2 separate regions of the Homo sapiens genome follow, and region 1 is linked to region 2. The links come from fine-mapping of genetic effects on gene expression. A gene starts in region 2. The other region holds a variant in brackets. All regions are shown on one strand. Distances are between the middles of the regions. Region 1 overlaps NT5DC1 (5'-nucleotidase domain containing 1). Region 2 holds the start of COL10A1 (collagen type X alpha 1 chain).

Region 1 (16,973 bases), 67 kb before region 2:
TACTGAGCAGGAGGCAGGGTGGTTCTACTTTTTGTTACTTCCAGGAAAAAACACTGGGCTAGATGGTCCAATGGTCTATTAGATCATTCTCAAAGGACTGAGCAGAGAAACTTGGGGTAGCTATTAGAACCTTGGGGACCACAAAACCTAATCTCATTGTGCAGATATGAAAATGAGGCCTAGAGAGGCTGACTTGCCTATCATCATGACATAATGAGGAAAACAGCAGGATGGAATGAAAATCTTGGTCTCTTTGATTTTTTCATTACACATTCCTTACTGTCATATCTACTAATCTTATTGTTTTATCCCCTTTATTAAGACATATTACAGCCTTGTTGTAAAGATGTAAATACAATTAGTGAAAAATTTAAAATGTACCCTTTTAATACAAAATCAGAATAAAGACGGAAACTACACAAACAGCTGGTTTATTCTTAAAGAAATGTATAAAATATCTGAACAGCCTTTTTTCCCCCCCAATTTATTCCACATATTTAAGGAATTTCCTTTGGGAAGACTAGGTCTAGCAAGATCAGATGCTCTGTATATCTGTGTAGAGACTGTGGGGCTCCAGAGGGAGAAGCTGCTGACTCAGTTAAGTTCCAACCTACCAGATAACAGGGAAATTATCTTTCTAAGGTTAAATGTTATTTTAAAATTATCTCGTAATTACTCAAGTAAGATATGTGAACACTTCCAAATTTCCAAATATATGTTCTAAATTTTGAAACATAAAAAAAAAGTCTGAAGTCTTCTCTAAATAGTACTCTCAGTTTCTGGTCCCTAGTATCATTGTTGTCATTTTAGTGTCACACCAAGCTTGTCCAGCCCAGCTTATTTTGTTGTTGTTCTATTTTGTTTTGTTTTAGGCTTTTAGCAGCCTGAAGACATGGTTTTTAGTTTCTGTCTGTAATGATAAGCAGAAAAGAGGGATGAGGAAGGGGTTTTACCGGCCTAACCAGAAACAGAAACTAAGAACCCATGAATGTATTATTTGCTTGGACACTTCTGCACTGTATACTTTTCAGATAAATTTCTACGGACTTGCATACACACATATGTAGTTCACATTTTGGTGTGTATCTTTCCAATAAGGTGTTATGGACTTACACACACATATACATGTATTTTCTAGTACACATTTTGTGCAATTTGCTTTCCTCACCCAAAAAAATGACTTCAAAATCTAGCCACGTACTTAAATCTAGCCATGTAATTATAACAAATAATTACTGAGCACCTACTACACACTATTCATTGTTCTACTTGTTGAAAACATGGACAAAGTTTTTTCTCTCATAGACCTTACATTCTAGAAACGCTTCATTCTTTTTAACCACAACATTGCAATCCAGCATATGAATACAACAGTACTTTGGTGATTTTTTTCATTATAAATTCTGGAGTAAACAACATTGTATCTGAGTCCATGTATACATATGAGTACTTCTTTAGGGCTTATAAATGTTAAACGGCTGGCTCATTGCATATCTGCGTTTCTAATCTTAATATTTACACTGAGTTTGCTTTCAGAATTGTTGGGGACAATAGTTTTTAACATTGTTAGCAGCATATATGTGTGTACACTTACCCCACACTCTCATCAGGTCATACTGTCAGATCTTAATTTTTGCTGATATACTAAGTGAAAGTGGACATCTCATTGTTTTACCTTGCATTTCCCTGATTACTAATTAGGTAGTGCATCTTTTTGAATCTTTCTCAGTCACTACCTCTCATCCCTTTTACATTTCTACATTCAAGGCTGAGAATGAAGTAATTACCAAAAAGCAATTTGTTGTATTCAACTGAGTAAATTGAGGGCTATTTATGAAGTTACTTTATTATAAAAATTCAACAAACACACTCTGAGAGCACTTGACAAACTCGGTGGTATTAACTCCTGAAGTGTTTCTTACCCCACCAAAAGCCTTCAGGCTCACAGCAGTGCATCGTCCTCTCCCTTACCCAGGTGTTTCACTGCAGGACCAAATTCCAAATTATACTGCCCAAAGTGAGCTGGGTCAGAGGCCACAGCCTTCGAGGGTTTTTTTTCAGCGGGTCTATGGAGAGCTGGGAATAGGTATATTTGATGATCACCGTGTGTGTGTCAGGGCATCTGTCGTCTAAAACTACTGGTGTTCTCTAAAAGGTAAATTATGATAATAATTATAGATATCAAGTGGCAAAAAATATTTCTGACAACATCAAGTACTGGTGAAGATATTGAGAATATAAGGTATCTGGAACTCACACTGTGCAAGTACTTTGAAAAATTATTTGGCAGTTCCTACTAAAACTGAACTCACAAATACACCCTATAATGTGGCAATTCTAATTCTAGGTGTAGCTCTAAGGGTAACATGTAAATAGGCATGAAAATCACATGTAAATGATGTTCATGAGGCATTATTTATAACAGTCCCCAATTAAATTAACTCACGTCTACCAAGGGTAGGATGAATAAATAAAATGTGGTGTAGTTATATTAATATAATGGCATATTGTACAGCAATGAAAATTAATGAATTACTGTGACATTCAGTAACAGGGAGACATTATAGGAGCATAATGTTGAGGAAGAGCCACTAGATGCAGGAAAATACATACTGCATAATTACATATATAAAATAAAAAATGAGACAAAATTAATCTGTGGTGTTAGGTGTCTCTCCAGGAAAGGGATGTTGGCTAGAAGGGAGCATGAAGAGAGCTTCTGGCGGACTGCAGGGCTCTATTAGCTGAAAATATGTTCACATTTAATAACAATGTATAGTAAAGTAATAATAAAGAACTGACATAATAGTTTCATGACCATGAAAATGAATCCAAGAAATAGAATAAAAACAAGTGTTAAATCAGAAATGAAAGACTCACATTAAATGAGAATCTAATACAATACTGTAAAACTGTTTAGTATAGAAAAGCAACCACTTGGTAATTTGGTTTGTTCAAATTTGCATTAAGTGACATTTTATATAACTTCACTATTTCCTGTGTCCTACCATAAAAATGTTTAATATCATAATCTGTGGGAAAAAATTTGTGTATTAAATTAAATTTAAAAAACCACTTGTATTAAGTGAAAAACCATGTTTGGAAAAGTAAAAGTTTATTATGAGACAGCCCCTCCCTCCCTTTTTGCATTACTACATTACCCCTAGTAATATTTGTTGCCTTTGTACTTTCCTCACTCCTTAAGATTTTCTAGTTAAGGAAATGTGAGGTAATTAAGAACTGTCACTTTTTCTGATTCTTTCCATAGAGCTTCTGAATTTACTTGCTCAAGTTAACAATAATAAAAATAGCTGTCATTGTCTTAATATTTTAATGTTTATCTGCAATGCATTTATGAAACTGTACACTGCAGTTCCCCCTTTCCTAGACTATAATCTCAGAATGCCATTCTTAACCTAACAAACATCATGTGACTGGATTTTCATATGACTCTGTAAATACCACTCAATCTAAACTTAGTGTCACTGAACTTTGCAGGCATCAAATTAACAGATTTGCATCTGTAAAAGAAAATAGCCTTTGTTTTTAGAATTAAAGAAATAAACCTATTGCCAATAATAATTTTCTAAAGGTTGAAACTCTTAAAGGTGGAATCAAGAACATATGGGATCATTGTTTCCTCGTTTCCCCTAAAAAAGAGTATGGCGAACAAAACTCAGTGAATTTTATTTTTTAGTGATGAGTTTAAGAACTTACAGCTTTAGATTTAAGTGGGCCAAAATTGAGAAGGAACTTTGTTCTGCTACTGATCTATGTATTCCAACCATGCTAAGCATAAGAAAAAAAGGTACTACAGAAATGTTTTCTCGAAAAGAATAGCCAAGTGTGTGCAAGGAAGGCCCAGAGCTAAGGTAGGGGAGCCTGCATCACATGGAGGATTCCTACACTGTCTAGACTGGTGCTCTAGCAGGTATGGGCCACACGTGGCTACTTCAAGTTAAATTAAGTAAAATTTAAGTCAGTTCCTGCAACTCCCTGCCACATTTCAAGTGCTCGGTAGCCACATGTGGTTAATGGCTACCACACTGGACAGCCTGGATATAGACTATTTCTTCACTCCAGGAAGTTCTATTGGTCAGCACTCCTCCAGGTGTAAATTAACTTTATTTCACAGTTCCTAAAATTATCAGCTGTAGGTGCATAAATCTACCAGTGTGGCATTTGGATCCAAATAATAAGCAAACATGATTTGGTCCAGAAATAGAGCATTTAAAAAAGTAGAGGCAATAATTATAATCATGAAACCATGCCAAGGCTTCAGTGCAGGCTAGAAGGGGAAATACTCTGCCCAGAATCAAGTGGCTTAGGCTGTACACCTGTGTTTCTTTCGGCTGCATGTCCTTGCCCATGACCTCACATGTCAGAAGTGGCCACATATTACCTTCCCGACTTCATGGGTGGGAAGGGATGTCAAACAAGCCTAAATAATAGTAAGCACATGTTGTTTGCCCTATTATCTTTATATTAACCAAGACTTTTAATATCATCAGTAAACCTGACTCTGGCAAATGCTCACCTCACTGAAGTTCTCAGAACTGAAAAGCATTACCGAGGCAGTCCCATAAGTCACTGGTCTCATTAGGGAAATTTGATTGGTCAATTCTTCTCCACCAACGGATTACAGAACACTACTCTATATACTGGAGTGATTCTAAATTCAATTTCTGTAACAAACTATGTTCAAATACATACCTTTATACAGTGCAATATGCCCAGAATGAATAAACAATACTGTTCACTGAAATAAAGGTGGTGGGAATGACTTCCAATTACACAGTTAGTTATAATGGCTACAGCCAAAAAGGCAAGAGTATCATAGAGGTAACTAATTGTAGTTACCTATATTAAACTTTTTTATCTGCTCATGTATTGTCCCTCCAAGATTTTACATGTGGTGACTCATTCTGAAGGATCCCCTTATCTCACCTTCTTATTCTGCACACATCTAGGTGCAGTACCTCTTGGGCAAGTTGGTACTTCACTCCTATTGGGCAAGTTAGTACTTCACTCCTACTGGGCAAGTTGGTGCTGTGGGGTGCTACCATAGTACCTTCCCGCTTTTTTCCATTCCTCTTGAGAACAAAGAAACTAAACAGAGAACCTTTCAGACCTTGGTTAGAAAAAAGCACTGGTAAGTTGTAAGGCAGCTGTATTTCTGAGTGGGTGGGGGAAGAAGAAGGGAGCATATGTGGATTTCCTCAGAAGAAAAAGTAAACATGGTCTGCCACAGGATTTATGCCAAGAAGGTGAAGAACTGTTATGTGATATCCTTCAGTTTCTTTAGCTGGGAACCTGAAACTGCTCCAAGCTAGTGGGAGAAGAGATGAAGTACGATCCATAAGGACATTAAATATCACCCAGAGAGAGAAGTTGAGGAATGACTTCATGAATAGACTTTTAAAACTAAGGGAATTATATACCAGAGCTCGATAATATCCTTCTGGATAAAATAACCATTACTTATAATAGTGTCTTACCTTTATTTAGCTATGCTTTTTAAAATAAAATTTTAATTTTAGTAGTTTTAGATGGACAGAAAAATTACAAAGATAGTCCAGAGTTCCCATACACCTCACACTCAATTTCCCTATCAATATCTTTCAATATTATGGTACATTTGTCACAATTAGTGAAGCAATACCAATACATTATTATTAACTAAAGTCCTCACTTCATTTAGATTTCCTTAATTTTTACCTAATGTCTCTTTTCTGTGCCAGGATCCCATCCAGGATACCATATTACGTTTACTGGTTATGTCTCCTTAGGTTACTCTTGACCGTGACATAGTTTCAGACCTCCCCTGTTTTTGGTAACTTTGACAGTTTTATGGAGTACTAGTTAGATATTTTGTAGAATGTCCTTCAATTGGGATTTGTCTGACTTTTTCATTAGACTGGGTTATGTGTTATTGGGTGGAAGACCATGGAGATAAAGTGCCACTCTCATGTTATATTAAGGGTATATACTATTAAGGGTCACTGTTGATGTTGACCTGGATGATTTGGCCAGGACAGTATTTGTCAGGTTGCCCCACTGCAAAGTTACTCTTCCCCCCCCACTTTCCATACTGTACTCTTTGTAAGGAAGTACAATGCACAGGCTACCCTTAAGGAGTAAAAATTCATGCTCTACCTTCTTGAAGGTAAAATGTGTGCATAAACTATTTTGGAAATATTTTGTGTGGTAGATTAGTCTCTTCTCCCCATTTATTTACTTGTTAATCACTTATTTATACCAGACTCATTGATGGTTATTTTATACTCTGGGTTATAATTCCATACTACTTTATTTATTTTGTTCTCAAATTGTTCCAGCATTAGCCATTGGGAGCTCTATCCTTTAATTCCTGTGTCCCTTTTACACACCTCCATCATTGTAATTTTTAAAAAGCATTTATTTACTTCTGGCACTACAAGATGCTCTAGGTCATCTTGTATATTTCCTGCCCCAGGCCTAAAGTCAGAGATTTCTCCAAGGAGCCCTGGCTTCTAATACTGGAGAATGGCGTTAGAAACTAAGATCTGAGTGCTAGGTGACTTCTTTGTTTTTTAAAGATGCTTTTGTACATACATATTTCTCTTTCCACAACATTGATGACAGATAGGTAAACTAAGGCTTAGAGTAGTTAAAGGATTTGCTCAGTGCCAAGGCTAATAATAGCAGTGTTGGAATAAAACTCAGTCTTCTAATGGTAGTTCCCTGTCCTTTGACTATCTAATGTCTTCTGGATGAGAACACAGCATCAAAGACCAGATTAACAACCTATAAGAAAAGGAAAAAGGCACTTCCAGAAGATAGTCCTTTCAGAAGGTAAAATTTAATAGGCGTAACTGACAAACTCTCTTGTCTATCTAGAAGAAACAACTGGAGAGTCTGTCTTTCATGGAAAGATATTTTTATACATTACGGCTTTTGACTGAGGGTGATTTAGCTCCCCTCACCCCCCAGGGACATTTGGCAATTTCTGGTGGGTGGAGGGTGCTGCTACTACCATCTAGTGGATAGAGGCCAGTGATCTTGCTAAACATTATATAATGCACAGAACAGCTCCTCCAACAAAGAATTACCCAGTTCAAGATGACAATAGTGCTAAGGTAGCTAAAGGAATAAATACTAGAAGATTCTTCATCTAATTTACACTGTTTATATTCTAACTGAATTAGTTTTCTATTGGTGGCTATGAGGGATCACCATGGAAGACTCTGTCTCATTCTGTGACCTCATGAGTTAGCCTATCAGAAGAAAAAGTCCCCACTTTGGTTAAGAAACATGGCTCTCAAATCAGATAAGAGACTCCTGTAGTCCTTTTTTTAAAAAAATATTGTTTAGAGACAGGATCTTCCCCTGTTGCCCAGGCTGGAGTGCAGTGGTGTGATCGTAGCTCATAGGTAACTTTGAACTCCTGGGCTCAAGCAATCCTGCCTCAGCCTCCCAAGCAGGTAGGACTGCAGGTGCACACCACCAGATCTGGCTATTTTTAAATTTTTTTTCTAGGGATGAGGTCTCATTATGCTGTCCAGGCTAGTCTTGAACTCCTGGCCTCAAGTGATTCTTCTGCCTCAGCCTCCCAAACTGCTGGTATTATAAGCATGAGTCACTATACCCAGCCACCTGTAGTTCTTATGTATGGGACGAATAGAAGAAGGCATGCTCTTTAAACAAGCTGCTTGAGTCAAGCAGGGCATGAGCACAGTTACATATAATGGTCCTGAAAAGGAAAGGCCTATCTCCATATAAGCCATCATTTACTGGCCACATTGACTGTTTTCTGTTTCAGGATCAAGCTGTGTGGAATAGTTACGTGGCTTTGAATGAATGGGTGAACCTTACCAAGTAGATGGCTGTTACCCAGAAACTGTTGTTCACTACTCAGTGACCTCAATTTGGAGAGGAAGTGAGTGACTGAATCCCTATTTGTTGATGTGGTGACCACCCAGCACTTTGACAGGAGAAATAACCCTTTTATTTACCAGGATCTCTCTTGGAAGATTTAGAAAAAGCTTGCTCACTCTTGGCACTAGCAAGCTGATGAAGGACATTTTCTGAGCAAAGCTAGGTGCCCTGGGGCCATAAATTGCCACTGCCCTCTATGACAAAATTCAGAGAGCTTTGGTGGCAGCCCTATCTGGGGTGAAGCTATTTGTGGAGCTCCTAATGAAGTAGACATGTGTATATAAAGTAGTCAATGCACTGGCATGTCTGGTACATGTAAACGCTTCTCAATGGTAGCAAACATAAAGAAGAAATGTTTACCTAGCGCTTTCAATCCATCAGTCCTTGTGCTAAGTTCTTTATACATTATCTCACTGAATCTGCATAACATCCTATGAGATAAATACCATTATCAAGTTTATTTTCACATGTGGAACTTAAAAGTAATTGTGTCAATTGGCCAATGCTAAACAATCAAAAAGTAGAGATGGTATTTGAATCTCTAACAGTCTAACTCCGACATTTGGGTGCCTTCATTACTGTATTATACTGTCTTCTATCTGCACTACAGCAACTAAAATTATTGTTATTAACCGCTGTACCTGGCTGTTTGTTCTTAAAACTTGGGTGGCAGAGGTAAAAGGTGGTGAAGGTCAAGAATGTTGATTCTTGACCGGGAAGATTCTTCCCAGTATCTTCCAATGATTCAATTCTGCTTAGCATTTTAAATCAGACAAGATGATAATCAGAGACCTAGCAGAGAATCAAGGACTTTTTGTGGATTTTGTAAAATGTTCAGTTATAAGTCTCAGTTGGCCACCAGTAAAGGGAATGGTGTCTACAAACTATGGATGGTATGTGGTTGAGGACAAAGCTGACATCGACATCATTAACCAGGCAAAGCAGATCCGTGGCCAGATGCCTATGAAGATTCATGCCTCTTCAGACCCTAGGTAGAGAGCAGAAGATAGTAGAGGTGAGGAGGGCAGCTGGCCCACTACAAATGGAGAAAGGAGGTGGGGGTGGACAGGAGATCCTGCTTCCCGTGACCCTCTGGCTCTGAGGCTATGGCTCTGATGGACACACACAGCTGTAGAAGAATGAGGAGCCCTCAGACACCAGGTCTGCCAGAAATGAAAGGAAAAAGAGCTGGTCAGATGCAACTAGATAGAACTCTGGAGAAAACATGGCTATTCCAT[T/C]TGAGGATATCTCCAACACCAGAGTAGAAGAGGGGAGGAAAAGGAAGTATCTGCTTTCCCTGTCTAATGAAGAACGGTGCCTGGCTCATGGTAAGCACTATGTGAGTGTTAAAAACAGCATACACAAGGCTGCACAAGTAGAAGAGGAAAAGGTGGAGAGAGTGAGCCAGCATTCCCAACACCGCAGAGTTAAGAAGCAGCAAACACAACCCAGAAAAAGTCAGCAATGCTGGTGAAATGCTCATAAAATGTCATAGCAGACACAAAGAAACACTATTTTGTTTAGTGTAATGAAGCTACTCCTCCTGTTCCCCTGACCTCAACTTTCTATATACTATATATAATTTGATAAAATAACATCCAAATAGTTTGAGTATTTTTCTAATTGATATAATTTCTTTGTGCTATTAAAAACCAAATGGCAAAGAGAAAACTTTTTTTTCCCTAGATCAAACTAATCACTAATAATGGTTGATTTATAGTTTGGGGAAAAATTTAGAAAAGATTTAAATGCTATTAGGTAAAACTGGTTTAAATTTTGATTAACTGAACTCTTTCCCATTGTGTATATTTTGTTGCTGTAGTTAGAGCAATGCAAAAATTCAAAAACATTTAAGGATTTAAATGTACTTTTAGGAAATAACAAATGTGATATGGAAAATATAACTAATCTATCAGTTAAAAAATGGAATTCCTGAAGGTCATTGCTGGGTGATTTGAGGTTTAAGTCATCAAGGAAGTTAGATGCTTATGGAGTAGGAGTAATAAGGAAAGGACGACTGTCCTTTTGAGATACAATCTCACTCTTGTGGATAGCATGATGTCAGGAAATAACAGAATGTCAGGGATAACAGAATGTCAAGTTTAGCCCCTTAACAACCCGACAACACCAACCAATGAGTGTTACAATAGGTACTCAAACAAGTACTAGACAGATGGATGGAAGAATGAATAACTGACCAAAATGCTCATCATCAAATATGGTTAGAGGCAGGAATCTCTCTCCATCTCCACCTTCCCCCTTTCCAACTTGTGGCTTAAAATAGCTTTTTGGTCTCTTCTAAAGTTACTGTTAGAAAATAGCATCTCTTTGGTCTTCAGTCCCCACCCACAATCCCACCATCTGTTCTGTGCACATTAAATTTGCTTAATTGCTACTAGTTGCTATTGTTGATCTAAATCTGCCTACACTTCAATCTTAATGAATATATTTAGCTAACAAGAGAGTCTACCATATTCTAAAGATGTGCCTTTTCCAACCAAAAATTTAAAAGCTGTTCTGATAGCCAGCCATCTTTCTAACCCCTGATTATGTACATTTGAGGGAGGGAGCAGATAAATGATATGAAAGTAATCATTTCAAATACAATCATATATAAAGCAGAATATATGGATTATCATTGGAATCCCTGTATTGAACTATTCTTAAAAATGAATATTTTAGTAATGATTTGGTCACAATTTGGCCATGACCAACCTAATCTGGTAAACTACTATGACCTCTTGAATAAAAAAAAAGTTAATTTAATAAAAAAGTTAAGGTAAACTTAATAGAAAAATACAGAAAATGGTGTTTCCAAAAAAATTTCCAATGTTTGAGTCAATTAATATTCTCCTCTGTATAATTTTAATAGCGAAATTGTGATATAAAATATTGGTATCATGCAAGTTATTTTCTAAGCAGTAGATACACTGTTTCTCTTACTATCATATGCCTATATTATAACTTCAGTATGTTTTATTTTATAGAAATTAACCAGATTGACATTTCAGTGAACAAGAGAACTAACAATGAGATGATATAAAATATAATGTGACATAGGCTGATCCTAGGCTGGCAAGCAAAAACAATTCATGCTACCTAGAAGTCAAAGCAGAATATAGAGAGAGCGGTAGAGTATGGATGGCAGGAAGGTGAAGGTGAGGTAACTTTAGGTTTGAATAATCACTGTATATCTTCCAGATTTGGGGATGGCAAATATGCCACAGTATCCAACTATGACTTTTGGTTATCAGTACTTAGAAAAATATGCTTGTATCAAACTAATAATGTAAACCATAAAAATATTACAACAGTATGTAGAGTGTCTTATAATAGAAAAGAATAGGTTCTAGCTCCATACCTGCCCCACTTCAGCATTGTACCCAAAAGCCACTACCTTTAGTCATTTGTTTCTAACTCTTCTGATAATTTACATTCAAAACTCTAAATAATATAATTATACTTGTAGTTCTTAGTTCATAAGCCATAAACAACATCTACTGACTTCCCATTAAGAAATAAAGAGAATTCACATTATCCTTTATTATTCTTACCCCTCCCTCACAGTTGTTATAGTTTTATTCTTTTACTGGCCACTGCTAACTTTAAACAATATACTTCAGGTTCTATCTGTTCAATCAATTTTTAACTCCCCACAACATAAAATAGGCTATTAGTGATTCTCCCCTTCTCACCAATTCCCAGTCCCCTTCCACATCTTAGCCTCTGACTGCCATTTTTTTCCCGAAATTGTCAACTACCCTTTCTAGGCTTTGTTTCTAAGTTGTTCCTAAAAATTAAAGGTAAATAATCTGTTTACTCTGTTATGAATATAAATATTACTTGTTGTGAAAACAAGTAATGTGCTAGAATTGCATTTCTATTTTTAGAGTTCCATTTTTATAAACTCCGTCATTTGAAAGAACATGTTACTAGAATAAAGATCAAATAGATTTCCTTTTCTTAATTTTCACAACTGCTCAAAATCATGTCACATTTTTTGTACATTCTGATTGGACCATGACATCATTCTACAATTTCTTACTTTACCTGGAGTTCCTAATTGCTTTTACTTTATTTATTGTTGACCAAATATTCTTTTGTTGTTGTTGTTGTTGAGACAGGGTTTCACTCTGTTGCCCAGGCTGGAGTACAGTGGGGTGATCATGGATCCTGGGCTTAGGTGGTCCTCCCACCTCAGCCAACCTAGTAGCTGGGACCACAGATACATGCCACCACATCTGACTACTTTCTGTATTTTTTGTATTTTTTGCCATGCTGCCTAGGCTGGTTTCGAACAACTGGGCTCAAGTGATCTGCCTGTTTCGGCCTCCCAAAGTGCTAGGATTATAGGTGTGAGCCATTGTGCCTGGCCCAACTCCTCTTTTTTTATTTTTAACAGTATAATTATATGTTTAAGTCCAACAACAAAGATGAAAGATTCAAGGTTTATTACAGCAGAGTTAAAATTAAAGCACGCTTTGAAAATACTCTTGTTTTTAAATGCTTACACAAAGACAACCATTTGCTCATACTGTCCCTTAGCACAGAGATGAGACATATTCTGTGTATATTAGTGACTTTCAGTTTATGAAACATTGCTTGCATATATTATTTTATTCTCTCAATCCATAAATTAGGAAATATCTTCTCCATTTTACAAAGTAACTTAAAGTTAGAGAAACAGAGATTTAGCCAAGATCACACAGCAAGCAAGTTGCAAGTTCCAGATTTGAAATCAAGTTTTCATTTTTCAAACGTCAGTGTTCTTTGCTTCCACCACAGCTTTCTAACACACGGGCTCTTCCTGCCTTTTGTTTAAAAGTAAAACATCCTAATTTTTTATTTATAGGTTTTGTTATCACAGCACTCCTATAAGGAAAGCACAATATCTCCACTTCTTATTTATTACTGGATACTATGGGGCAAGATTTTAAAAAATAAACAGTGAAAAACTGGCAGAACTAAGAGTAAAACACAAATAAACTAAAAGGCCATTACACAAAGAGTTGCTAATAACAAACTGAATAGTCAAGAAAGGCCAAAAGTTCATAAGCATATTCTCAGGTAATATATGAGAGTCTGTAAGGCACGGAGCTATTCTGTACAGCTTTAGTAATGCTGCATTTACATAAAAAGGAAAAGTGATCCCAACAATACTCTGACAAACTAAGTATATCTCATACAAATAGCTTCTTGGCAACAATCCTGGCTTTTGACTTTAAGGTCAAGCCAAACCAGAGACCAGTCAGGACAACTGGGGTCTGCTGAAGATGCAACGTGAGAAAGCAGGGGAAGTTGAGACTAGAAAAGACACACCTTCCAATAGTAGGAGGCCAAAGAAGCAGGTTTCAGCTTAATACCAGGAGGAAATCGTAATAGAGGAAATGTGCACACAGAAATAAAGACAAAGTATTAGTACTCAGACCAGATAGATTCTGGTTAGTTGAAGTTTTACACTCTCTATACAGGTATAAGGCAAAACCTCAAAATTCAGTTACAAAGTTTTGAACTTCATATTGACTTTTTATAATATACAAAGTAAACATTCCTTAATGTACTTTAAGATTTGATTTTTGACTTTATATCAAAAGAAAATAGTTTAGGAAGTTTTGCTTTTTAAAAACAATACCTACTTAACAGAAACACAGAATCCAATTTGAGCAACATAAAATGTCCATTTCAAGTCTTTCATCTGTATATAGTTAAACCCTAGTACTAATTTTCTCTTTTTAAAATAATGGAGGGGAATATGTATAACCCTTTAAAGTAGAAATGGCATCTTAAAAGAATATTCGAGTATACCCAAAACGGAAATAATGCCTTTTCATTATTAATATTATCTGCTGATATTTATTGAGAGCTCCTCACTATGTATTAGGCACTGTGCTTAACATAACACATATATTATCTCACTCATAATACAACTTATCCCAATTTTAAGAGCAAACAGAGACTTACAGAGGTTAATTAACTGGCAAAATCACACAGTTAACTCTGAACTCACACCATTTCTTAAACATCACACAGACTACCACTCTCTCTAACCACCTAATTAAGTCCACATGACAAATTCTTAATCATGATATTAATGATTACCAAGTTTCACCTAAGTAATGGGCTAACGGGAGATTAACTGGATGAGTTTCATAAGCCTGCATCCTCATCCTCATGTTTGCTCGTAATTTCTACCTCATCTTTGTTCTGTCCAAAAAATCATGGCAATCAATGTAGCTTACAGGAAGCAGCAAAACTGATTTGATTTATCACTGATAATGCCTCCTGTTCCCTTGTTGGTGGGGACATTAATGAGCAATGAGAACCAGGCAGCCTTAAGGTTTGGGGAATACAAATATATAAATACTGTACATCAATATACACACTTTAAGGATTGAAGTATTAGGAGAAACACCTCATTAGATAGTAATCCTAGAAACTTATATAAACTACATTATTACACAAAAAAGACAATGTTATTGACTCTTTTTAGCAATGGATTTTCTTTACAGTTAGTTTAGACAGACTGTATTTTCCTACTGCACTACATTTCATATAATTGGTGGTATCACGTACCTTGAGGAGAAAAGATGTGGCTATTTTAAGGTATAATTTATTACATAAAAAGCTTTTTTGAGTTAGACAGTGATTGTTGAAGGCTATTTCATCTATCAGTAAATATTTATGAAGCACTTACTAAGTAGAAACCTCTTACACTGTAAAACATTTTTCCCTCCTCTTCTTTCCCGTGAATCTCCTCTCCTTCCCCTTCCAGAGAGAAATGGGGGCCATCACACAGTAAGTACAGTAGGGTTTCTTTTGTTTGTTTGTTTACTATGGTTAACATTTTTTAAAGACCTCAGATGCTCTTCCTTGTTTTGCATCTTGAAGCAACTTGTCCTTGGAGTTTGGGTCAGAGGTACAAATTCTTGCTAAACTACAAAGGAAGGGTAGGAGTTGTTTATTTCTCTTTCTTTATTTAGGATATCGACTTCCAGAGCTGAATAAGGTTACATGAGTAGAATCACACCCTACATTAAAAAAATTGGTTTCCACAGATATTTGCATTTAACTCAGGAGTTCAGAGACTCGGGTGTTGGCTGTAGTTCTAACAACAACTCACTGTGCAACTTCGGGGAAGTCACTTGAGGCCTCTGAGCCTCAGTTTCCTCACTTAAAATAAAGAGCTGGAGTTAATTTCTCAAGTCTTTTCCAGTTCTGGAATACCAGGATTTCCTTGTATTCATCCTTATAAACAGGGGTAACCACTAATGAGAGCCATGTAGAAGCACCACACAGAACCCATCCCAACGAAACTGAGAACCTGTCTCTGGCACCTTCTTGGATTACTGAAATCCAGCAGACCTGTCACTTGCCCCCTCAGCAGAACGATTCTTTCCAGACGTTTTACATACCACATGACTCTCACAGTTCAGTTGTCAAGAATCCAGAGACCACTACATTTTTGGCAGCTTTGCAGGTCTGAAGTCTTTCCTGTTTGATTTTATTGACGATCCAATAAAGCAGAGTTGTGTAAAAGTAGAGGCTTTCTGCATGGGGTGTTTACCCCCACAACCACTGTCATCTTTTCCCTCTCAATTTAATTTTAGCTGTGTAAAAAAGGGCAACTAATGTGATGGGAGGTGGGGGGATGCTTGTTTTGTTTTCTCCAGATACCACTGCCGCTAACTTCTGTAACCTATCTACTGTCTTCCTCACCTCTCATCCCTCATCCAAGTAACTATCCACATTTCCCCTCTGTTTCTAAGTCTACTAACAAAACAACTTATTTTGCTCTTTCAAAATAAGAAATATAAAAAATTGCTTCCTTTTATCATATGGTAATAATCTCATTTTTTAAGGAAAAAGACAGTATTTCATATATTGATAAAAGAAAAAATACATAGATAATTTAAAAAATACTGTTTTGGCTCAGGGAATGCTGACTTTCTAAGGTTGAGAAGTGTGGTGATGGGAAGAGGAGAAAATGAACATATGTTGACCAGCCACTATGTAACAGGTATGATATAGATATTACATCTTATGTAATATCCACTACAAGCTCTGTGATAGATATTGCTATTCCCATAAAGCTGAAAAAAGTATTGACAGTGATTCAGAGAGATGAAATAATCTGCCCACATTAAACTGAGCCACTGTACTTTCCATTATATCATTATTGTGCCACTACCTGAAAACTAGTAAAAGAACAACAAACATTTACTTCTTTATTGAAATCAGTTAAAAATCTTAAAAGGCAAAAACATACATATAGCATAGTATACAATAAGAGAATTATGTGCTTCCCCTGAACGGAAGCATTTAGCTGTAACTAAGTAACTGCTGTCTACCATTACTTCATTCTTTTCTAGTTCCTGCATATGAATGGATTTTTGTATCCATCTTCTATTAAGGATGCTGTTCTATTAAAATCATTTTTTTTTCATCCTCAGAACATTTCACCATGGCCAACTATAAATATTTACTCTCATTTGACAGGCAAGGGCCTTTTAAAAATAGAAAAACAGTCTGCATAACTGGTTTAAACTTTTGAACTTTATTTAATACACAAGAACTATAGAGAACCAGTAGTCTCAAGCACAACTCAATGTCATCCAATACTCATTCGTTTATATGTTCATTTGTGTCTTCTCCTCCTAAATATAAAAAGGTTCTAAATTGCTTGCAAAATATAGTTAGAAATGAGAGGGAGGTATATAAAGAATAAGTATCCCAAGCTAAAGAAAATCAGAATAAAATGTCAAGACTACGAAGACAAAAAATAAATGTAAATATACTGCAATACTGGAACTATATGTAAGTCTCAAATCGGGTTGTGAGCTTACTAGCCCTCAAAATGAGGGAAAAAATATACACATGCACAATCAATTACACAATTCTAAAGGTTTACAAGAGAAAAAAGTACCAGTTAATAAATAGAAGTAAAACTTTTATTACAATTTGTACCTAAAATAAATTTCTCAAGAGTGGTCAACTAAAAAAAAGAACAAAATTCAAGTAGGAAAGGTATTACTACTAAACATCTCATTTCAACTTGA
Region 2 (16,973 bases):
CAAAATATAATAATTGTATTATCCAAATTCTACACAAGAGTTTAATCATCATTTGTACCAAATAACACAGAATTTATTCTTTAAGTTAATTACCCACAAATTGTTACTAGTAGACTGAGAGACTTCTTTCCCCCAAAAAATCCACACTTTGATAAGGTCAGTTACTTCCCATGGGCTCCAAAACTCTTAACATTTTCCCCCAATATTCTTCTACTAGAATTTTTGCCAAATAACTCTTTATCCTTTTTTCTGTATTTTTAATAGTTGTGCTATAAATCATAAGAATACATCTTTTTTTGTAGTTGCACTATTTTATCAGTCATTTTCTAAATCATGTATGATCAAAATATCATTTACTAAATTAATCTGAAAAAGTTCTACTCTGCTGCAATTATACAAATCCTACTGGTCACAAAACTAATAATGCAATTATAAACTAACACTTACCAATGTGAGAAATCAAGATTTATGGGGAAATCAAACCAAAAGCAAGACTGAAAAAATATTCACTATCTATTCTTACTCTCTCAATATCATAGTTGTAATCAAGAGCATTCCCCTGCCATATTTAACTCATGCTAAATATACAATTCTATACAAATATAAATACTACAAAATGAAGTTCTACATGTACCCCATTAGTAAGGATTCATATATTAGTAATAATTCAAAAGTCTCCCAAAATATTGAGAAGTTTTTAGTCATACTATTCTGCCTTTTAATCATTATAACAAGCCATGATGTCCTAAAAAATAAGCATGTTTGACACTTCTTCGAAATAAAAACAAATATATCGACATTCGCACTATTTGCTTTTCAATTAGCTTCGTTTTTAATTAGCAAATTCTGAACTAGCCCATTTTAGAACTGAAACAACATAGCTCTTTCAATTGTAAAGAATTAAAAACAGTGTTCACCAATTTGAGATGGTTTGGAAAGCAGACGTAGTGGGATTACACTTTCACACAAATCTTAACAAGGAATAGCCAACACAGTAGTTCCTAGTTAAGTAGTGCTATTCTTGGAATTATACTGTTTCTCATAAATCCTAAAGAAATATATCCACAGAAAACAGTCGCTTTACCATGGTGATCTTGGCTAGGATGCTTAACCTCTAGGCCTCAAATTCTTTATCTCTAAAGATGAGAATAATAATAGTACCTACTTCACGGGGCTGCTATGACAAGTAAATGAAATAATATATGCAAAGTTGTTAGAATTAGATCTAGCACATAAGATCTTAAAATGTCAGCTATTGAGCTGGACATTTTCTTTCTTTTCTTTTTTTTTGAGCAGAGTCTCACTCTGTCACCCAGGCGGGAGTGCAGTGGTGTGATCTTGGCTCACTGCAACCTCTGCCTCCCAAGTTCAAGCGATTCTCCTGCCAAGCCTCCTGTGTAGCTTGGATTACAGACACACACCACCACGCCTGGCTAATTTTGTATTTTTGGTAGAGATGGGGTTTCACCATGTTGGTCAGGCTGGTCTCGAACTCTTGACCTTGTGATTCGTCTGCCTCGGCCTCCCAAAATGCTGGGATTACAGGCATAAGCCAGTGCGTCCGGCCAAGCTGGGCATTTTCTAATAGATTCTCACAACTCTAAAAGATAACTGGTTTTCCATATAAACAGGTACGTATTGCACACATGCATTTTATAAAAGATATCTTGGTTCAGTAAATAATAGCATTTGTCTAAGTGTCTGTTGATGGCTGAAGGGATAAAGAAAATGTGGGACTTTTGTTTCCCACTACTGAGGCACGGGGATCCAGTGTTCCAACCCAGTGGGAAAACGCAGCCTTTGACTAAAGAGGAGACCCATGTAATGTTTGAGGAGACTGTGAAATACATTAGGGAGAATCTCTAGCTGCCAGCTGAGAGGCTCAATGGCACCTACTGTTCTCGGCTGCACAAAGGCCAGGTGTACTACGTGAGTGAGAAGATTCTGAAGCTGGCACTGATATCTGATTTCCCTGTGACCTGCTTCAGAAAATTCACCAAAACCTACAAGTTTCAGTTGAACATCACAGCTCTGGATTACCCTGCACCCTATGCCAAGTATAAAGTGTGGATAAAACCTGGAGCACAGCAGTCCTTTCTATATGGAGACGATATGTTGAAATCTGGTCTGAGTCAAATCATGAAAAATACTTCTCCTGGCCAGGAAGTGGTGGTGGCAGACATCCCTTTGGGTTTTGGGGTGGCAGCCACATCTACGCAAGACTGCAGAAAAGGAGACCCCACCGATTTGTGGTATTTCATCAAGCAAACACTGGTGAATATGTGTGGCATGAAGAGACGGTGACTTAAAATGAAGTCACTGCAAGGACTTAACAGTGGTGTGGAAAGGCCCAGCTTTGTTTCCTGTGTTTGTGTGTATTCCACCATCGGGTTGAATTTTGTCAACACTATGACCTCTTCAGGTCTTCTTAGTTTATATACTATCCATCACGACAAACACAGGCTGGATTCTTCTTGTACAGAAATGGCTCAAAATTGGGGTTTCAGATTTTTGCATTTGTGACTAAATATTCTGTTTCGTATCTGAATCTGAGGGCTTCTTGTTCTGAGTAACAGATTCCAAACCGTTGGAACTAAGGCCAAGAATAGCTTATTGTTATCTGTGATAACACTTTGTTTTCCAAACTCATGATAACAGCATATGGATTTTTATCTGTTTATTAATATGAAAGATAGATACTGCCATATCAGAACAGTAAGTCACATCTGAGATTTCACAAATGAAATTTGACTCAAATAATAACAGCAATTTATAGTAAGTGTTATGTGGTGTGGAAGAAAAACTTGGGTTCAAACCCCAGTTCTGCCGCCTACCAGCTAAATGACCTTGGATGAGTCATTCCACTTAATAAGCTTCATTTTCTTCTTTTAAAAAAAACCCCACAAAACTTAAAAAAAATAGCTATAACCATCTACCTAAGAATGGTTTTTAGAATTAGAAGAATCATGATTATAAAGCATGTAACACAGTGCCTGGGAAATGACAGGTGTCAGCCCCCTTGTCCTTTAAAAAAAAAAGTGTGCATATTACATACATACACACCAACATGTAATATTATTCAGCCTTAAAAAAGAAGAAAATCCTGCTATTTTTGACAACATGGATGAACCTAGAACACAATATGCTAAGTGAAATACACCAGACACAGAAGGACAAATACTGCATGATCTCACTCATACGTGTAACCTAAAAAAGTCAAAATTCATAGAAGCAGGGAGTAGAATGGTGGCTGCCAAGGGCTGCAGAGTGGAGGGTCACAGGGAGATGTTTTTCAAGTGGCACAAAGTTTCAGTTACGTAGGATGAATAAGTTCATGAAATCTAATGTACAGCATGGTGACTATAGTTCGAGATACTGTATCATATACTTAAAATACGCTAAAAGAGTAGGTATTTAAGTGTTCTCACCAATGTAATGGATATGTTAATTAGCTTGATTGTGGTAACCATTTAGCAATGTGTGTGTATGTGTGTATATATATATATATATATATATATATATATATATATATCTGAAAATATATTGTATACCATAAATATATATACTTTTAATTTATCACTTATAACTCAATAAAGCCAGAAAAAAAATTTTTTAAGCTGAGTATTTGTGAAACTATGACCAGGGATGGGTATGTTGATCCACAGTTTAGAGTACTGCCAGCAGCATATATATCAGGAAAAAAAAATGTTTGTTAGTTGAATTAAAGTCCAATGAGTCTAGAGTAAATATTAAATATAGCTCGTGCAAAATGCTTTTGGTAATAGAAGTTATATTGTTCATCAAGTAATGAAATGGAATATTACCTAAGATTTTAATGAGAAAAAAGTTAATTTTGTCCAAGCATAACTTTGCTGAATAACAAGCAGAACTGAGGGCTCTACCAATATTATCTAGAGAACTCACATGGAGTTGTTAAATAAAAAGGTGGGGGGGGCGGTTATGGATGCTACAGAAAAAAAATGAAATATCATTTTCTAGTACTTACTTGGATTAGTATCTCTTTCAGCTCTAATATTCGTATTTTAATGATATTGATGCAATTCTCCAATTTTCATTTTATAAACTTGAATGTTCTAAAATATTTATCTAATACTCACAACCCAAATAATAACATCTTCCCCCTTTAAGGGTCATATATGTATTTCCATTCAAGAGAAGATGCTAACAGGTAGGCTGAGCAGGGAAAGAACTAATAAATGATATCAGTAGTCTGTGAGCCCATTTTTATTTCCTGGCATATAATATATTTTTAATACATTGAAGAGTTGAATAAATCAATGTATCAATAAGTAAATGGGGTACAGATGAGTAAAAGATAATGGGAAAGTGAAGCATAGCTATGTCTAAAAAGTTATTTGTTGCTCTGAAACTTCATAGTTCAGGTTTCTGAGATATTTAAAGAAATCTCTCTAAACTCCCAAGATTCTGGGCTCTTCTCCTTTTTCTTTCCATCTCAGGCCCAACCTGAACCTACCCTCTTACATCTATATCCTCCTACCATGCCTACTTTCAGAAAAACTGTCTTTGAAAAATCTCTGAAATTCTAACTTATTAGCCAGCCAGTAGAACAATTTAAGGTACACACTTACTAGAACAGCAACCACGGTTATTTTCTTTTGTGAAAACTACTTTGGGAAGAAGTTGTTAATACTAGGACCTCTACAAGAATTCCAAGTTATTATTTTAAGGTAAGGAAAGGTTTGGAAAGACTCAGGTCCAAACCAGCACCATGCGAATGGCCCTATCCCTGGGCATCCACAAGCATGAGGCAAACCATCCACCTCAATAAACATGGAAATCTGATGTCCTGACGCTCTTAGTTCCTTCATTCAGGGACATTTATAAGGTCTATGCCTTATAACAGGCACTACTTGTATAGAGTGGATTTTCAATAATAAATAACCCATAGTCCTTGAATTACGTTCAGGAAAGAGTATAAAGTATGAGAAAACACCATTTCATGATTTGGAAGATAGATTCACACAGACACTAAAGAAGTCAGAGGCCATAAGAGGCTTTGGTGTCTGGCGTTTATCTCCATGAGTCTACAGCAGGAAGTAGCTCCTGCTCCAGATTCCTAGAACCCAACCTGGCAACTGGTATACATAGAGGGTCAGAAAAAGTCTGACAATTATTTGAGAAGACTGTCTAATATCAGAGATATTTACCTCTTTGACACCAGTATGGTCATCATCACCAATCACAATTGTGGAGCATTCCCAAGCACTGTTTTGCCACTTATGTGTCATTTCACTTTCCAAAGATCCTAACATATAAAATTAAGAGAAAGTAGGGGAAGATGACAGCATGTCTAAACTTCCGCCTGATTAGCATCATAAGTGGCAAGAGTTATTTTTGACTCATAAGTTATTAAAGATAGTAAGAATTTCAGCACTAATAAGATCACTGGGGGAAAAAAACCACTATTAATGGTTATTATATCTCTATAGTATATACATTTTATTTTCTATTTGTTACATTTTTCCCAAATAGCAATTACCTTTAAAATATGAAAGAAAGCAGGCAAAGAGGAAACCAGGGTGCAAAAAGGCCAGGTGATCTGGTCAGCATTACTGGTGGGCAAGAGGCAGGAACCAGGGATGGCAGGAAGACTCACTTAGCATCTTTGCACTATTAGGGAAGAGGTCTGTGGGTGAGGTAACACAATTATTTGATCAATGGCTAAACAGACAAGGGCCCAGCATTACTGGGATGTATTTTCATTGTTAGTATGATTAAGTTAAATAGCTGCATAAGTATCCGTTTTGACGATGGGTTTCTTGGTGGTCTGTGTTGCCACACAGACCCTACAGGTACTCAGGTGCCCTATAGGTACTTAATATTCTACAGGTACTCGTGTACCCTACAAGTACTTTACTTTGTACACTATAGATGGTGACTGTGGAGTTGTTCTCAAGTACGATGGCAAACAGAGGAACAAAGAGATCTAAATAAAAAGTGTTACCCTGTGACTTCTCTAATTAACACTTTAATTTGCTATAATTTCTCCTTCCAACTTAGCAGAAACTGCATGTGAAAGCTGAAGTTGTAAACAGAGTAGGAACTAACATGTGTGAATGGTTGAGAACCCATTGGGTAGCCAAGATCCCTGAAGATCTTAGGTCAAGGGGCCAAGACATTCTATATTTTTAACTCAGCTGGGTTACTATGGAAAGCAGGTGATGTCATTAAGCACTTGGCGCACGAAACTATGAGCTCTTCAAGTAATGTAGCAATTTGTGTATAACGGAAAACAGAATATAAAGCCCTTGTTAAAACTTTGTAAATGACTCTCAGTTTTTCTTGACCTGATCTGACGTTTCAGGGGTTTTTCATAAACACCTGTTTTTATGCATGAATTTCTCTTTTCAAACTCTCAGCAGGTATCTAACCACTAAAGCACATTAGACTATTTACACAAATAGATCATTTTTAGCTTCTGGGCTCTATAATGGCACCTAAGAATGTTCTTTTAAAATTTTTTCAAGAGGAATGAGGTACAGCAAGGTGGTGGTGGAAGGTGCCCTGACTAAACTTCTCGGCACTTTTCCCATTTCTACCCTAAAAGGATGAAGGATTAGAAGAACAGGAAAGTCAGTATCCTGCCAGAACAGGGGGTGAACACATTAGCCCAGTCGCTGGTGTTTTCCCTCAGTGGGCTCTCTCGCCAACAGCTTGTCACATCAGAAATGTAACTCAGTTAAACATTAGGCCAGGGGATGTGCATAATAAACTAGTTTCCTTGTCTGAAAAATAAAATGATTGATGTGGATGAACTTTCCTGCCCCTTACAGCTGAGTCTATGAAAGAACAATAATATTCTGAATAAAGACATATGTACCTTAAAAGAAAGTTTTACATGAAAAAAAAAACTCATAAGCAAATTAAAAAGACAAATAAACTGGGAAAAATATGTGAAAACTATATCACAGAACAGAGGTTTAAGTTATAGAACATGTACAGGAAAAGTAGGCTAGAGAAATGGTCTAAGCTATATGAAAAGATACTCAACCATGCTTTCAGTAAGAAGAATGAAAACTACAACTAGACTGAGATTCCAATTTTCACCTCTAAGGTGGACAAAAATTAAAAAGTTCAACAAAATCTAAACAACATATCCTGTTGGTGATGCTGAGGGGAAACAAGGCCATGAATCCCCATTCTATGACTCTCTCCCAAAGACATTCAGGCTACATATACACCCACACACAAAGTTATTCACTATAAAGTATTTGTGTTAAAGACATGGAATCAACCTAAATACCCATCAATGATAGACTGGATAAAGAAAATGTGGTACATATACCCCATGGAATACTATGCAGCCATAAAAAACAATAAGATAATGTCCTTTGCAGAAACACATGTGGTGCTGGAGGCCATTATCCTTAGCAAACTAATACAGGAACAGAACACCAAATACTGCATGTTCTCACTTATAAGTAGGAGCTAAATGATAAGAAACCATGGACACATAGAGAGGAACAACACACACTGGGGTCTTTCAGAGGGTGGAGGGTAGAAGGAGGAAGAGGATTAGGAAAAATAACTAATGGATACTAGGGTTAATACCTGGGTGATGAAATAAACTGTACAATAAAGCCCCATGACACAAGTTTACCTATGTAACACACCTGCACTTGTACCCCTGAATTTAAAAGTTAAAAAAAAGTATTTGTATTGGCAAAAGACAGGAAATAACACAGATGTCCACCTATAGGGCAATGGTTGAAAAAACTATGGTGCATCTATACAATGGAGTACCATGAAGCTGTAAAAAGGAATGCAGACCATCTTTACACAATGTTCTGCAATGATCTCCAATATAAACTGTTATCTATAATAAAGCTGCAGTTCAGGTCAAGAAAAACTGAGTCATTTACAAAATAAAGTATGTACACTGTGATGCCATTTACTTAAGAAGTTGGGAGGGATATAAATGAATAATACATTTTTTAATAAAAAGGATAAATCAAAACAATGTTTTAAAAATAGTTACATACAGAAGGAAGGTGAAACACAGGGTGGATAGGTCAGTAACAGAGGCTACCCTTCTCTGAATATTCCTTGTTTTATAAATTTGACTTCAGAAATATACAATGTTTGCTGGAGCTGGCTTATATTGGCTCTTGGTGAATGTTCAGGTATTTTGTGATCGGGTTTTCTGGAAACTGACCATACCACGGAGATCAGCAAACACATCTCCTTCACCCTCAGGTTGGTTGTTAAACATATATCCGAACACCAGAGAAAACATATGTACTTTATGAAAGTATAAAACAAATTAAATTTAAAAAGAGCATTCATAAAAATTGAAAGCAAAATGAAACAAACCTAACAGTGAATTGAGTGGGCAGTATTACCACATTGAATCAACTGTGTCATGTGACTTTACAGCACAGTAATGCAGCTCTAGTGAAAATACCAAAAGAATTGCAAACATAATCAAACGGCTTATATTTTTTTTCAATATTCTGGTACGAATATTGGTATTTTTATTTTGAGAAATTGTGAGTATCATGGAATAAACAAATGAATAACTATATTACTGGCATGAGTACTAGGGTTTTTAGCATGGGACCAAGCAGCTACAGATACAAGATTGAGGTCATTAAGTAAACACCTGTGGTCCTGAATGTGCATTGGCTACATCAGTAAAATGTTATCATATATCTTATATTTAATGAACACCCTGTGCATACGTTTCTTAGCTGTTCACTAGATAGAATGACCAACCCAGAAGCAATGTGCATCCCTAGGACCCAGACATCCAGGCACTCAGACTGTGGTTTCTATTTCCCACAAAAGAAACTAAGAGTCTGTGGAGAAATGTCTTATTGTAGATCTGGGCCACGAAAGGTACAAAACATTAGAAGGAAAGAAGCTATAAAAAAAACTACTGGGATCATGGTCAAAAGAACTCAGGAGCCAACTGGTAGAGGAGAGGCTCTCACTGGCCAAAAATGGGGAAAAAATTCTGAACAATAGTAAGATTAATAAGTGCCACGGACTGAAACACATACAATACATTATAAACTGAATGTTTATAATGATAAACACACACACTTTCCTCACTACACCTGTGGAGGATGCTGGGAGCAGCTTATTGTTCTAAATGCTGGTAAAGGCATTTCTCCTGCTTTTTCTATACACACTGTACTTCAGGGTAATCAAATAGTTGATGAAGGGGTGTTTTTCTTTATAGAGAATATCCTAGCTAATAAATAAAATACAAATGATAAAATCAGAATATCATCATTTTATAACCTATAATAAAATATTGACTGTAGGCAATTACCAATGTCCAGTAACACCAAAGAGACACCAGCAATTAAGGGCTTCCTAACAGAAGTATATCATACCACTCTCTGTAAAGGGTTCTTGCCAAAAAATGTATTTGTGTGTGCTGTATCTGTGTGTGAGTGAATGTGTGTATCTCAAACCTGAAATCAGATGAAAACTCTAGATTTAACTACCAATCTCCACAGTAGCAAGTTAAGTGACAACAAATTCTAGATCACAGGAAATTGCATGAGACAGATGACACGGCTTTTCAACAAATAAACTGCAAGGGAGTAAAAAGTGACACAAGACACCTAGAGTAACAGGTTTAGTCCATTTTACACTACTATAACAGAATGCCACAGACGGGGTAATTTATGATGAACAGAGCTTTATTCGGCACACAGTTCTGAAGGCTAGGAAGTCCAAGAGGATGGCACCGGTATCTGGAGAGAGCGTTCATGCTGTAGTATCGCATGGCAGAAGGCAGAAGGGCAAAAGAGGGCAAAAGTGTGCAAGAGAGCAAAAGGGGGCCGAGCTTGCTTCTATATAAAGCCCACTCTCACAACAACTAACCCATTCCCACAATAACATTAATCCATTTATGAGGGCATAGTCCTCGCAACCTCATCACCTCTTAAAGATCCCACTTGCCAAAACTGTTACATTAAGAATTAAGTTTCCAACACATGAACTTTGGGGGATACATTCAAACCATGACAACAGGGATATATGAATCAACCTAATTTCAACAAACAATTTATCAATCAATAAAAAATATATGTGGATATGTATGTATGTGTTTCTATATAATATAGACATGTGTATACATATGTTTGTGTATATACATGTCTATATATGTATGTGAACTACAGGATTTGATGATATTAAGAAATGGCTGATTTTTTAATACGATGATGACATTGTTTTAAAGAAAAAAGACTCCTTCTCTTCTGGAAAAATATACCAAAATATTCACAGGTAAATTGGTACAATATATGGGATTTACTTCAAAATTTGAAGGAGTGGTGAATGAAAAGAGAATTGAGTGACAGCGAGTTGAGATCAGTTTGAATGACAGGCATATAGGCATTTATTGTAACTATTCTCACTACTATAAAAGACAAGTTTTCTGTAAAAAAGTTTAAAAAGCATATGAACACAAATAACAAAAACCAATGTAACTAATATTAACAAGGTGGTAATAGAACACTGATATCAGACTATACATTCTAACTTAGGAGGCCATCATGATCACCTGAGGAGCTTCATGAAAATATAGTCTTTGAACCACCACTATTTTAATGAACCTCAAAGGCTGAAGGAATTGTGCATTTCCCTCAGGACAGCAGGAGTGGGGAAAAGAGGCTGAGAACCACTGTGTAAACACTTTAAGGGTATAGAATATATATTATTCACCCAGTATTTATCTTAATGTCTAACACTTAAGAAGCACTTAAGAAACATAAGGTGAATTAATTAACGATCCACAGATGTACAAATGAATAGGCAAGCTTAATAGTAGCTAACTGCCAGATGTGAAAAAAATCATTATTCATATTTGATATTTAAAAAAATTACTCAGGTTATAGAGTTTAAAGAGTATGGCTCTCTGTTTTGAGTGGAATGGGTTTCCTTCATAAAGCCACAGACTAGTCACTTCAAACAGCTACAAGTAAACACCCAGAGTAAAAATAGTTTTAAATACACAATTGGGTGGGGTGTGGCTAGAAAATATTCTGATTCTACAATCTGTTTTGGACAAGACAGTGCTTCTTATGTGACTAACAAAGCAAACAGCAGTCAGATTCCTTGTGCTGAAATAAGTACACTATTTGCAAAAAGGGTTGAATGTCCAAGGCTTATTCAATAAGGACACCACATTTTCCAAAACTAAAGGGGAGTATAGAATGACAAATACCCACATATATTTACATATCCCTAAAAGAAGACATACAACCTCCTGGTATGGATTTTTTTGTGTCTCTAATAAGTACTAACTGGAGCCAAGTCTACCATCTGACCATGGAGAACAGCAGAATACCTCAAGCACAGGAATAATCTAATTTTAAAACTGGGAGGAGCTTAGAAACCACCTAGTCCAAACTTTTCATTGTGTTGATAAAAAACAGACACCCAGAGAGGTTAAAGTGAAAGGCTCTGAAAATTGTTGCAATAGCCACAGATGAACAAATGGTATACACAGGGGCATAGCACTATGTATTAAGAGCTGAGAATTAGTCTTCTGAACGTTCACGAGTGATAACTAACAGGGTATCAGTCTCAATTATAAGCAAATAGCAGTATGTGTGTGCATGTGTATCACCATATATACACACAAAATATTAAAATATATATTTTAATAATTCCTTTCAAAACAAATTCAACCTAGCATTCAAAAGCATCCATAAAGTTACCTCACCTACTTTTTCAAAATTGTGTCCAAATGGGCCATAAGCCAAAAGGCAGGTGTTTTCTCTCACTTATCTTTTGTAGTCTCCTACAGATGTAGCAGAGTACATATTATAATTACAAAAGCTATTCCATATATAATTTCCAAATGATGAATTATAAACTTTCCTATTTTGTTATTCTAAACTGCTATAAGAAACATATTTTATATGTATCTATGAGTATTATACAGAGATATATACAACAATGTAAATTTTTTTAATATGGCAATCAACAAAATGCTTACAAGCAAGAGGAGAGAGGCAATGAGATGCCTTATCCATTTACATTTCCATAAAGGGCTATACAAGGCTTTGTTTAAAATACAGAAAATTGCTTGAAGGGGAGAGAAAGGGAAAAGAAAAAGGACAAATCTTTAGTTCATTCACTGGTCAAACTTTCAATTATTTCAATTATTGATTAGTCCTGAATCCATACTACTTTAATTCTGTGGAGGTAGAAAAATGATGTGTCTATGCCTGTGTATGGAATTGTCCTCCTCAACCAGTTCACCTGCATAGTCAATTTGATTTTGATTCAAAACGATGAAATTAAATAAGATGAAAAATTTGGACTCTCAACTTCCCACCTTTATTAGATTTTTTAGGATCCTAAAAACTGATTTTAAAGGCTTCCTAATATTGTTAAACAGAGTCTAACTACCAAAATTGACAACAATAGTGTTTACTTCCACCTTTGAGGGAAAGTGTTTCTAATTGGGATGATTCCTAACTGCAAGTTAAGCCAATAATATTTTTTTTAAGCTGAAAGCAAAGTTTGAAAATTTTTTTCTCCTGAAATAAACACAGCAATCTTATGTAAATTAACATAATATGAGATTATCAAATTAAGGGGTTTTTGCAAACTCTACTGCAACTCTAAAGTAAACCCAAATTTAAGCAAGAAAATCTGAAGTCATTTACTGAATATAGCGTAGTGTTGTGAATAAGGGATCTAAATCCTAAAAGCCTAAAAGTAATTAAGAATTGGGGTCAGCTATTTTCACAAAAATTTATGAATATTAATAGACACATTGATAACTTTATGTAATAACTCAATAATTTAGATGATGGTCTAAATCCAGTACCCCCTTCAAGGAATTTTATCCGCTTTTATGTACTACCACATATTATATAATATCAACCAATTAACATAAGAATGTGCTTTTCAAAAATAAAAAGGGGGTATCATCATTCCACCGTGAACCAGCCTGAACACTAGAGTATTAATTAATAAAATAGAATCACAGACAAAGACGGTCCTTGGTTAAAACTATTAATATATATTTAAGACAATGGGTTTATTTTTAAATAAGAAAACAAGGAAAAGGAGAGCCCAGCCCGATCTTGTGTGCCTACCCAATAGAACTTTCCACCATAATTAGTGCTTACCAACTTTGAGGGGAGGAGCTTAAGCTCAGGGTAACCTCATGTAGTAAGGGAAAAACAGTATAAATACCACTGAACAGCTCTTGAGAGGCACCTTCTGCACTGCTCATCTGGGCAGAGGAAGCTTCAGAAAGCTGCCAAGGCACCATCTCCAGGAACTCCCAGCACGCAGGTAAGCGTACGCTTACTGGTGGACTTCCATGTTAACTTGCTTGGAAAGAAACTTTAAAGATTTAAATACTTGAGTTTTCTCAAGTATTAGAAGTATTAAAGTGATTTAAAAAATGGGTTTCTACTAAAATGCACTCCAAAAGTTCTTTTTGCATCAGTCTGTGGATGATAGTCCCAATAAAACCATATTGTAAAAATTTGCCCTAATCCGAATTTCAGTGTATTTTGAAACTATTAGATATTTCAGGCTATGTCAAAGATCCTAGATTATTTAATACAGACATCCAATCCTAATTTCTGTTTCTTTTCCTTTAGGTAAATCATTTTATTTTCACTTGATTACCTGAGTATAGCTTCCAAAAATAACTAAGACATATATTCACATAACTAAAAAATGATCTCTCATTTATTTATGGCACATATTAAAAATATATAGGATAGGTTAAAAAAGTAGATAACTGTATAAAGAACTCATCTGTGAAACATGAGAATAAAAAAATAGGTTAATAACAATGCTGTATAAAGTTATTCTTTTCTGTTTTTCAGAATCCATCTGAGAATATGCTGCCACAAATACCCTTTTTGCTGCTAGTATCCTTGAACTTGGTTCATGGAGTGTTTTACGCTGAACGATACCAAATGCCCACAGGCATAAAAGGCCCACTACCCAACACCAAGACACAGTTCTTCATTCCCTACACCATAAAGAGTAAAGGTAAATTGAATTGTATATTTTGTTCTATTAACAAGTTGCTTGTTGCTTTCTATAATCTTAATAATCTCTTTAACAAAATGCATTTAACTTTGGTGTTACTTTCCAACTTCTGAATTAGCCCAAATTATTACAACAAAGTGATCTGTGAAAAAAGTAGAACAAGAATATCCAATAAGTGTAGTAGAAAGGATATACTTGAAAATATAGTTGAAAGATATACCTGCAAAAAATCAGAACTTTTGTGTGTACAAATTTTTTTCTCAGATGCTGCTTTTGCACAAATAACTGCATGTAATCCAGAAATCTTGATCTAATCAAAACTAATCAAGTTTAAAAATTTTAAGCTAAAAATAACTGCCAATTGTATAAAGAAGGTAGCTGGTTTATTTAGCTAAATATTAAACATTTACTTTTAAAACTAATTCAACTAGCCCACAAACAGATATAAAACCGAGTCTTATCAAAAAAATCTGATGGCCTCCCCCCCAACAATGAACAAATGTAATTATGAGAATTGCCAAGCAGGCAAATGAAACTGCAATTCTCATAATTACTTATACATTTTGAATATAGTTTAGCGGTAAAATGCAGAGACTTAACTGTAATGCATAAGCTGTGTGACCTGAGGTAAGTTACTTGTCCTCCCATGCCTTAGTTTCCTCATTTGTAAAATAAGGAGCAGCTATCTCAAGGGCTGCTGCGAAGTTTAAATGAATTAATACCTGTAAAGTGCTTTAAGTGTTGCTATTACTTCTACTACTACTTCTGTTACTCCTAGTTTTATTTCTACTACTTTTAGCTACTAATATAGCCTTCAATAAGTTAACTTTCTTCTTGAATCTGTTGCTTACCTGTCCAGTTTTCTTGGTTACTCTTTGAAGATTACTGAGATAATATATGTAAAGCACTAAGGTTCTCAAAGGAGGGCAACTTCTAGGCCTCATATTCACTAATTTTATTTAACAGCAACTGACACGACCGCCTATAAAATATCTACAGAATAATATAAACTGACTGTAGGCTTCAAACTCCCTTTCCATAATTTTTTAATTATATATTTTATACTGTAAATAAAGCTAAGGATATTTGTTATAAAGTTTAAATATTATGCTTTTGGGAACAACCATTTTGAGCAATGAAACTTATAGAATTGTCTTTTTAAGAAGAAAGATGGAATTTAAAATATTTCACAAAAGGAAACTTAATATTTGAAAATAAATGCACAGGTATACAACAGATACTTTTGAATGTCTCAAAATATAAATAAAAATTTTAAAATTTAAAGGCTAGTAAAGAAAAAAATAAAAGACAAAGCAACCTTCCGCTTTACTTGAAGCAACAAACACAATTTGAAATGCTATGACAAACAGCACTGGATTCAATAGTTTCCATGATCACAAAAATCAGACTTTTTAACACCTTAATAAGAGCATAACAAAGTCTTGAATTAAAAAGAAAATGCACTATTTTAGAAGGTTAAAAATACTTTGATCTTCTCTTAATATACACCATTATCTTGGCTACTTTTGCAGAACAAATGAAAATATCTTAACAAATGAAAAGTTCAGAAGCTGTATTTAAACTACTAAATCCACCTTAGTCTCTTTTTAGATAGACACTCAACTACACTATCATCCATTGGCAGACATTAATGCACCATAACAAACACAAAAGCCCACAGTCTATACAAGTAAGACATTAAGTTGAAACAGGAATTCAAAGAGTTATTACATAATTCCTAGGCATATCCATCCAACACAGGTTAAAAAAGAGTTCTGTCAAAACATACTAAATTATGCTGCAGAGGATTCCACAGCTGGTGGGCAGATGCACGTGCCACATTCTGACACAACCAATCACGATTTCAGTTTGTGGCATTTAAAAAACTTAATAGAAGGAAGTAGTCGTTTTACCTTGAGGATTGTGCCACCCTAATCTTGAATGAAGAAAATTTTTTCAGATGACAACCTACAAACAGGGGCTGTCCCCCAAGCATTCAATAGAAGCCAAATTCTTTCTCGCACTGAGAAGTTGAGACCCATTAGGACAACATTCCAAGTGACAAAGTTCGCCCTGTCACTGGAGTTCCAGTCTCGGATGACGCCCAATGCACTCATTTCCATTGACTTGTTTCTCCTTTTTAATAGTAAAACAGATTTCCAATCAGACTAAGACAATTATTTTTAGTGTGAACATGACCCTTATAATCAGATTCTAAAGCAAAGCTCAATCTAACATAGTTGGCATTTTAAAAAATCCACTATTTTATTCCTCCAACCCATTAAAAAATTCCTTATTTATTCCTCTATTTGCAATATATCAATATCCACTTATACATAATATAATCATGTATGTACACTACAATCAATGAAATATTTAATATACGGAAATCTTTTACATAAATTTTTCTCACAGTCTTTTTCCTGATGTCATTTTCTGAAAATCCATGGGGAAAGCTCTATGTATTTATATTAATCAATGTTTTCAAATTGAAATATAACTCTAATTAGTAAAAAAAAATCTAAATCTGAAACAATTATTTTCCTATTTCGGCATATCTATTTTAATGATTCGCTCTGCATTTATATACACCAAATGTTTTCCAAATCTCAGAAACATCTGTACCCTGTGCTTTCCCCATACTTGTGGCCCAGCCGCATTTTTCACATCACAGGCACTATGATTTTTAGTTTAAGTTTAGTTTATCAGGTCAAGTGAACTCACAGCTCTATGAAATCAAACACTATATATTTGTATTTAGGTAAGAACTTTAATACTATTTTATGTACCTCACCTATTATGTCTAATTCTCTAGTTCTTTGTTTCAATTTTAAGTCAATAATGGAGAGTATAAGAGCTCAGAGTATATTCTGAGGTAAAAGTAAATCAACCAAAATCTAACCTGTGTTCAGCAGAGGCATGGCAGATGTAAATCAGAATTAATT

What was found. PIP is the estimated chance that this variant, and not a neighbour inherited with it, causes the effect.
Region 1: its variant is the best candidate, but not a certain one, in a credible set for the expression of COL10A1 in blood mononuclear cells (TOPMed, PIP 0.74).

What each region holds. Positions count from the first base shown.
Region 1 is chr6:116,189,108-116,206,080 of GRCh38, reverse strand. The region is part of intron 6 of NT5DC1 (5'-nucleotidase domain containing 1); the gene reads right to left. It also overlaps a transcript of COL10A1 not described here. Among named protein-coding and RNA genes, the nearest start is that of TSPYL4, 56 kb to the left of the region's middle. The variant T/C (reference allele first, on the strand shown) is at 9,156.
Region 2 is chr6:116,122,394-116,139,366 of GRCh38, reverse strand. It overlaps COL10A1 (collagen type X alpha 1 chain), which reads left to right and starts at 13,235. Exons shown (of 3, transcript NM_000493.4): 1 at 13,235-13,314; 2 at 13,860-14,028. The coding sequence starts at 13,875. The region is part of intron 6 of NT5DC1 (5'-nucleotidase domain containing 1); the gene reads right to left. It also overlaps the pseudogene NIP7P3. RefSeq lists a silencer at 10,907-11,201 and an enhancer at 14,491-14,660.